Linked DNA regions of Homo sapiens. The protein of the gene in region 1 purifies or fractionates together with the protein of each later gene. This does not show direct contact. Each region holds a gene or a part of one and is shown on either strand. Other genes may lie near its edges.

Evidence for each region. The genes of interacting proteins can lie anywhere in the genome.
Region 2: the proteins of SULT6B1 (region 1) and EMB purify together in Homo sapiens (affinity purification with mass spectrometry; one large-scale study listed by BioGRID and IntAct). This does not show direct contact.

The regions. Positions count from the first base shown.
Region 1 is NC_000002.12:37,185,560-37,190,082, forward strand, and holds the start of SULT6B1 (sulfotransferase 6B1), read right to left. Parts: upstream 3,112-4,523; 5' UTR 3,082-3,111; coding exon 2,883-3,081; intron 1,909-2,882; coding exon 1,796-1,908; intron 1-1,795. UniProt on the Homo sapiens protein: Sulfotransferase that utilizes 3'-phospho-5'-adenylyl sulfate (PAPS) as sulfonate donor to catalyze the sulfate conjugation of thyroxine. Involved in the metabolism of thyroxine.
Region 2 is NC_000005.10:50,396,289-50,400,054, forward strand, and holds part of EMB (embigin precursor), read right to left. Parts: intron 3,626-3,766; coding exon 3,571-3,625; intron 3,003-3,570; coding exon 2,985-3,002; 3' UTR 1-2,984. UniProt on the Homo sapiens protein: Plays a role in the outgrowth of motoneurons and in the formation of neuromuscular junctions.

The sequences.
Region 1 (4,523 bases):
TACAAAACATTAGCTAGGCATGATGGCGCACACCTATAATCCCAGCTACTCGAGAGGCTGAGGCAGGAGAATTGCTTGAACCCAGGAGGTGAAGGGTGCAGTGAGCCGAGATCGCACCACTGCACTCCAGCCTGGGTGACAGAGTGAGACTCCATTTCAAAAAAAAAAAAAAAAAAAACAGAGAGAGAGAAATTGAAATCTGGATAAATGTTGGCATCATTTCTAAAGGTGATGTTAAGCACTCTCTTTAGAAAAAGGTTATGCAAAGGCCTGGACAGGAGAAGTCTATGGGGCTTTTCCTTTATTTCCTACCTAGGTCAAAGCTTCTTACTGCCCCTGTTGGTCCATCCTACGTTCCTGGGCCTGTCTCAGCTGAGCCTTCATCAGGTTGGCTTTGGTACAGGTGACCCTCCCTGCTCCTTTGTTGCCAACCAAATCCAGGGCTCGGCACTTACCTCCAAAACACCCTCCTCTGAGTCCCTTTACCATGTGTTTTTCTGCTACTTTGACCTAATCCATGGAAATGGGCTTCCTTCCATCTAGGTTCCAACTTTCAAGTTTGTATTTGTCATCATGCCAGTGTCTCAGTCACCTTCCAGAAGCTGTTCCCTAAGTCCCAATCCAGTGGCTTTATGTTAGTAGCTGAGTTCTCTCTGCCTGTTGGGAATCTTGGTGGTGAACACTGCTGAAAGTTTTACTGAGACTGTGGTTCCCCCTTGAATACAGCCTTCCCTTCCCCGCTGCATTCTGGTGTGTCTAGGAGTGGGGAGAGGCTGTCTTCCATGTCTTTTTTCTGTCCAAGCCCTGAAGTCCTGAGGTAGACCATCCTCCCACTCCTTTCTTGCCTTCCCTGGGCAGGGAGTAGAACATCCTATCTCACATCCAAGACCCAGTTAGTTGTATTGGGAAGGTAAGTAACAACAGCTAGGGTGACCTGTTATCCCCTTCACACACATCAGTGGCGTACTCTCTGAGCTAATGCTTGATTCCTTCCCATCCCTTACACACACGTGAATCATAACTGAGATAGGGAAATCAAAAATCATGTCTGGCTGGGTGCGGTGGCTCATGCCCATAATCTCAGCACTTTGGGAGGCCGAGGTGGGAGGATCACTTGAGCCCAGGAGTTCATGACCAGCCTGAGCAACGAAATGAAACCCTACCTCTACAAAAAAAATTAAAAAAAATTAACCAGGTGTACTGGCACGTGCCTGCAGTCCCAGCTACTCAGGAGGGTGAAGCAGGAGGATCGCTTGAGCCCAGGAGGTCGAGGCTGCAGTGAGCCATGATCACACCACTGCACTGCAGCCTGGGCAATGAAGTGAGACTCCATTTCAAATAGAAATCATGGTTTACTAGGAAAAGACTGGTGATTCCTACTACCATCCTGCACAGGTCCATGTCTTCAGAGATGAGACTTTTCTGTTCATTTCCTGAGGTTTCTCAGCTTACTTTCCCCCTACTTAAAATAAAAAGAACAAAAACAGCCTGGCTATACAGTATAGTTGTTAAAAGCTCAAACTGGAAAACTTGGGTTCAAATCTTGGCTCTATCATTTATTAGTCCCTTGACCTTGGGCAAGTCCCTAGCATTTCTATCTTTTGTGAAATGGTAATAAGGTTATTTTGCAGAAAATGAGATGATACCTGAACAGTGCTGAGGATATGGTAAGCACACAGTAAATTGTGGTAATTATTAGCATTGCACTTTCTAAACTGAAAACTAAAGAATCTCCAAACCGGAAGAAATCTTTCTATGATAATTTGCTGTAAGGTTAAAGGCTGGTTGTACTAACCTGATATTTTTCTGAATCCCCACATTCAAGAACTGGGAATTCTGGATATTTATACTTTTTTTTAGAAACAGCATATATTAATTCACTGACAATGTGGAGAATCCAGTTTGAACCTATCAGAAAAATCAGAGAATAAAAACTCATTACGGAGTCTTGATATAACAAAAGGACGTTACTTTAGCATATACATGATAAAAATTAAAATCTACAACCATTCCCTGATGTGTATATTTAGTTCTTCTGTCTTTGAAATAACTTGGGCTATGGAAAGAAATGGTTTGATTGAAAACAGCATTTACCTATAATTAGTATAAAATTCAACTGAGAACAGATGGCTCCTTTAACAAGGGACAATGCTTCATTTTGAATCTAGAATATGTTTCTTATAGGACAATGTTATGTTATAGAAATAGTTTATTATAAGTTGTATATATTATTTTACATTAAATTAATATGTATTTTCTACAGGAATCTATAATTTTGATTTTATGAAAACACAGCATCAGTTAAGAAAAAAAGATATTAAATGAGGTTGGCTTTAGTAAACAACAGTAGAAAGAATCAAAAGGAGATGGTAGAAAGCAGGATCATCTAGATTCTTCATGTCTTATTTTCCGTTGATGAAGGATCTTTGTAAAAGTGATTTGAGAAACTGATGGAGCAATATTTGATCCTGAAAAATAATTTATAACATGGAAATCATCATGTAAATTATAGAAGTGGCTGTGCTTTTGTCCAGCCAGAAATCAAGACAAAATCACTGCTACTGTCACTGTTCCTTGCCAACTGGACTTTCCCACATTCATGCTCCTCCCTTCCAGGCCCGTCATCCACCCCCTTCTGCCCTCCATCCTCCATCATGGCCTTTCCGCACAGAGCTCTTCCTTCAGACACTGGAGTTTTTTAATCTAGCAGTTCTATTTACTGATTTTACAACCTACGTACTTAACCACTGTGGCCCTCCTCCTCACTGATGCTCAGACAGATTCCTGCAATGAGGAACCGCCTTCATCCCACCTTTGTCTCATACCCTCCCCAACCTACTCACTATGAGAAGTGTACTTGTAGGAAACGACTTGTCATTTACCGCACTTTGGATAAGATGCTAGCACGATGTCATCATGTCTGGCTTCGAAGGTGTCCAGCGCTTGGAAAGTTTCTGAGGTGCACATGGTGATGGGGTAAGGAATCCCCTGATAGGTGAAAAATAAATGAGAGAGTGCAGTTTCTTTTGATTTTTCTAAAGCTTCGTCAATGTATTCAATAAATTTGGATTTATCAGCCATGGTGGCTCCCTGTAAAAGAACCTGCTCTGTGGCTGTTCAGGGGGAGTGATTGCTTTTAATGGAGTTGGGCAGGGGCTGGAATAAAGGGCTCCTCCCAGTCACATGAAAAAGAAATCATTTAATTCTCATCCACCCCTCCCTCACTATTACATATCCTCCTGGGAAAAGCTAAACCACAGGTGCAAAACAGGCTGAGGATCAGGGAATATTACCCCAAGGGCTGATTACATGACCATTTCGGCAACCTGCCCAATGAAAGTAAGAATGGAATATCCTAATAGAAGAAAATATATATTAAATATCTAACAAATAGGTATTTAATCAGGCATGCAATTTTTCTATTAGAAATTCACAGAATGAAACCTCAGTTCTCTTCTGGGTTGATAGATTTCCACACATATCCTCTGTGGTGTGAAAGGAAGCAATGGGATTGTGAGGTAATTTGGTGGGGTGGAAAAGAGACCAGATTTGGGGGCAGTCTTAGGCACTCTCATTTACTGGCTCAATAGATACACAAGTCTAAAGACCTGAGTTTGAACCTTGACTCTACCATTTACTAGTTGTGTTACTCTGAGCTAATGATAATATATCTCTAAAAGTTTATGTAAAATTGTTAACAGTGGAAATGTATCTGAGTTACCCCATATGGGTCTGCAGTAACCTCAATTCTTGCCTCCTCAGAAGAAAGAATTGACTGAGGATGTAAGGCCGAAAAAGAGACTGAGGCAAGTTTCAGAGCAGGAGTGGAAGTTTATTAAAAGCTTTAGAGCAGGAAAGAAAGGAAAGCACACTTAGAAGACACCCAAGTGGATGACTTCAAGTACAAGTGCAAAATGTTTAACCTTGATGCTAGGCCTTCATAGGCTGGCCCACTTCCAGCATCTCACACCACTTTCCCATGATTCTTCCTTTAGGGTGGGCTGCCCTCCTTACCCCAGGGAAGTAAGCATGTGCAGTGTGTTTAGGAAGCTGTACACATGCCCATCTGAGGCTTTCTTCCCTTTTCTAGTGTAGTGCCCCCAGAAGGTCATACTACGTCATTGTGTCTCTTAATGCGTGTGCGGGGAAGGTGCTTCTCCCTGGAACATTTCCTAGGGTACGCTCTTTCTCTAGCAGCCACTCTCCCCTTTTTCCTTTGGGTAAGTTGGCCCACACTTCCCATCTCCCAGCAGCTTGGTGTGGCCCTGTGGCTAAAACAGTAAGTTGATGGCTCTCCAATTTTCTTTAGTGCCTTCCCCATACCTGGAAGGCAGATACTGTGTTGGCAAACCAGATTTGCTAATTCGGAGGAAAGCAGCACTCCAGGGGGTGGCAGACTAACAAGACAGAGGAAGCCAGCTTACTGGATGGCCTTGAGAAAGAGAGCCACCCTCCCATGACTCACACTGTGTAACAGGCCTCGTTCTGACCTGTATGTGAAAGAGCATAATTGTTCATCTTGT
Region 2 (3,766 bases), on another chromosome or scaffold:
CAAAATTTAATTTTTATTTATACATTCATCCGTTCAATACACATTTCAAGAAAGCTGTATTGCACCCTTTCAGTGGTAGTTACAGGACAAAGAAACAAAATAATCCAAGAGAGAGACCAACAAATGTATATTTATAACACAGAGTAATAAACACAAATAAATGTGGAGTTATTTAAGCATGTAAGATGGTACATGCTCTACCAGGTATGGGGGCTTCTCTAAGACACAAGATCAGATTAAAGTCTTGAAAGATAATCTGGGGTTAGTCAAGCAGGTAGAAGTGTGAAGAGCACTTTCTGAGCGGAATCTCCATGTGCCAAGTCTAGTTCAAGAGACTGGATAGAGATTAGCAATTTGGAGAATGCAATATTAAGAAATGGCAAAGGTGAGCCTACAGAGATTCCAAAGTTGCATAGTGAGGTTTGTGTTTGAGAAAGTGGACTCAGGCAGCCACGCAAAAGAGGGATTAATAGAAAAGGAGACTGAGGTAGGAAAATCAAGGCATTAGTGTTGCAGCAGGTGTGGGCAGAGTTGGGGAGGCAATGGGATGGATTCATGAGCTATTAAAAAGGTCAAAGGAGCAGGGATTCATGACCCATAAGTATTAATTAATACAGAAGAAGAAAATATCAGAATGAGTTCTAAATTAGGGCCTGAGCAGCTAGATGTTGGGATAATAACAAAAAGACTGCAAAAGGAGAAGATTTACACTTTGGCAAAAAATGTATATGAAAGTATCTGGGAATTTTATGCCATCATTAAATCTACTTATTATGCTGAAAATCCTTGTTAGCTGGAAAGACTAAGAGAATTCCCCAAGGTGCCTAATATATAAACTTGGAGTAGTTTTCCTACTTCAACTTTTATGCGGCTTATTATTTGCAGTCAATTTATATTTGGTCAATATTAGTTAATTCATTTATCATCTCTGTAAGATTGGTTAATGGAAGCAGATTAAAATCCAACAGTGGTAATTTTCTGGAAGTCCTCCAGAGAGACTACAAAAAGCCAAAAGTCAACTTTAATTTTTGAGTACTTTTCCTATTTAAGGTTACTGAGATAAATTGTCTTTGCTAGAAAAAAATAAACAGTATTGCCAATTAAAAACTCCATTTACTATAGAAATATTCCTGATTATTTTACCTTTGGGAAGCAATGCTTGTTGCTTGAAAATTGTATGAGCCTCAATGGTTAGTGGTGGTAAAATGGAAGAATGCATACTGCAGATGGGTTACACATTTGTTTGTGTTCTATATTCCAAGTCACAAATACACTGCTTTGAATTGTATTTAGTCAAACAGCAGATTTGACTAATATTTCCCTGAATTCAAATAGCTTAGATTAATTAAGCTAACTGATTGGTTATCTACCATTATATAGATATTACCCAAGTAATGTTGTCAAAATAATAATTAATTAAACTAAAATAAATGTATGGCCCTGAGACCAGAATAAAATGAAAACCAAGAATAAAATGAAGTTTGCCATTACCGGGATGTATTCAAGTTCAGCAAACTTATATGTGTAGTTAAGATGCTTTACAACAAAATATTGCATTTTGTTATAGCAACAAAGTATTGAGCAGCTTCCAAGTCACTACCTTATGTGTATTATTCATACTAGTAATATTGGTAAACATTAGTGATACAATTTTCACTACCAAAATTTTATTATATTTTTCTTAGCCAATACATGGAGCAAATTTTTATAAAGTATTTCTTGTCAAATCATTGAATTCCTCCTCCCCAACCTTTAAATTCCCTAGTCGCCAAGAATCTTGGGTTCCACACCACCACTCTTTGCTTCTGTTCTTAAAGTTGTTGCCCTTTGAGCAGTGGGACACTTCATGGTCATTTATGTTATCTAGTATCTTGTGGTATGATTTTAGTATTCATTCAAGCATTGACAACTTTTCATGTTGATTCAGATTTTATAAGATTTGATTACAGTGAGTTTATAAAATATTTCAGTTATATATGCAATAGAAACGAAGTATCCTATTTTGGAAGATAAGTCTAAGGCATTCACAGCAATAAAAAAGAAGTGCTTTAGTATTTCTGGACTTCAGTCAAGGGAATTATTATTGTAAAGCACTAATAATGCAGGTTTAGATATTTAACCAGCCATAGATACCAGGAAGCCAGGTGTTAAATCAAAGAACCAGGAAACCATGAGCCACAAAAGCATCAGTGTAGCAGTGTTTTAAGTATTACGACTATATGGACCTGCACCCTAAAACATAAACAATGGTGTACCTTATGAAGTTAAAAACCCTATTTAAGACTAAGAAGCACTTTAGCCTGGTGGGGAAAGCAGTGGTTATGAGTGGAATAAAGACTGGAAAATTTGCTTTTGTAGTGCAGAGCTTTAGAGCAAGCACAGTTTTATTTATTTGCCTTAAACCAATATTTCCGGATAAAAGGTATATTTTTCTTGTGGAGATTGTAGAATAACTATCATTAGCAAAGGCAGAAAGTATTCATTTCAACTTAGTAAAGACATATTTTTTCACTATCACAGAAAGATGACCTTTACATAAAAATTGTTACATATACTTCCATAGATACTAATAGTAAGTATGATTTTTTTTTAAAAAATAACTTTCTAAGACAAATGGCAAAGGCTTTCTTTTTCATGAATTCTTTGGTTATAAACAGGTTTTGAGTGATTTTTGTTCTATGAAGTATTAAGTGATTCTGCTGATATCTGTTCTGTGTGTCCTTTGAAGACCAGAATATAATTAATTTTATTCTGGTCTAACATATTTATTCTGATTTACATTGCTTTTATGTAACATAATTACAGAATGAAAATATACCTTTAGATCTGACATATATCGTTGATGAAGCTCCTGCTGAGCATGTTGCATAAGCTTTTCATCCTTTTAAAACTAAAAACTCAGAGGCTCTTAACAGGAAGGATAAACAAAGCTGAAATACGAACTCTGTATATCTTCCAATGATTCTCGACATGATGTTTTGTATTCACTGGCCCAGAGACTCCTGAGTTAAATAAAGCATAATCAAATATAATTAGTATGTTCTGGTTATTTTATAGTAACTTACTATCACTTTAGCAAAGCAAAAAATACTGGGAAGTGAGGGATCCAATCTACTGCCAAAACAGAGCTCCTACTCTAATGTTGATGAACTAAAAATTTTGAATCTAATCAGCAAAGAAAGTTAGCTTATATGCATAAGTTTATACCCCCAAATATATGGGAATAAATGAAACTAAAATAACAGAAAATCCAGAAAATTTTAGAGGAAAACAAATAAAGCTACATGAAAAATTGTAAAAGAAACTAGTCCGTGGTGATAAAATAAAATATGTAGCCAGTGCAAAAGATTTACTTCTAGATTAGTTGCTATGTGCCCTCTGGTGGAAAATGATTTATTTTTGTATAACTATACTGTATATTTTCCCCTATAATAGTGTTAACAAGCATATTTGAGCACATCATAAATGACCAGATCTTTTATGGAACTAAAAAAAAGTAACTGATTGATAGATAGCCTATGTATATTGAATTTGACCTTTTATTTGGAATATCATTCAGAAGTAACTTACATTTTTTCTATGCCTGGGGACATTATTTTCTATACCATTGCTATCATCTGATTTCCTGCACAGAAAACAAAAAAGAAAATTACTAAATGCTTATATTATATAAAATTAAGTCAGTACATCACTGATATGGCTATCAGGTTAAAATGTAAAATGTCAATACGGACAGAATTCTTTCTTCCTAAAAATGTTTTACTTA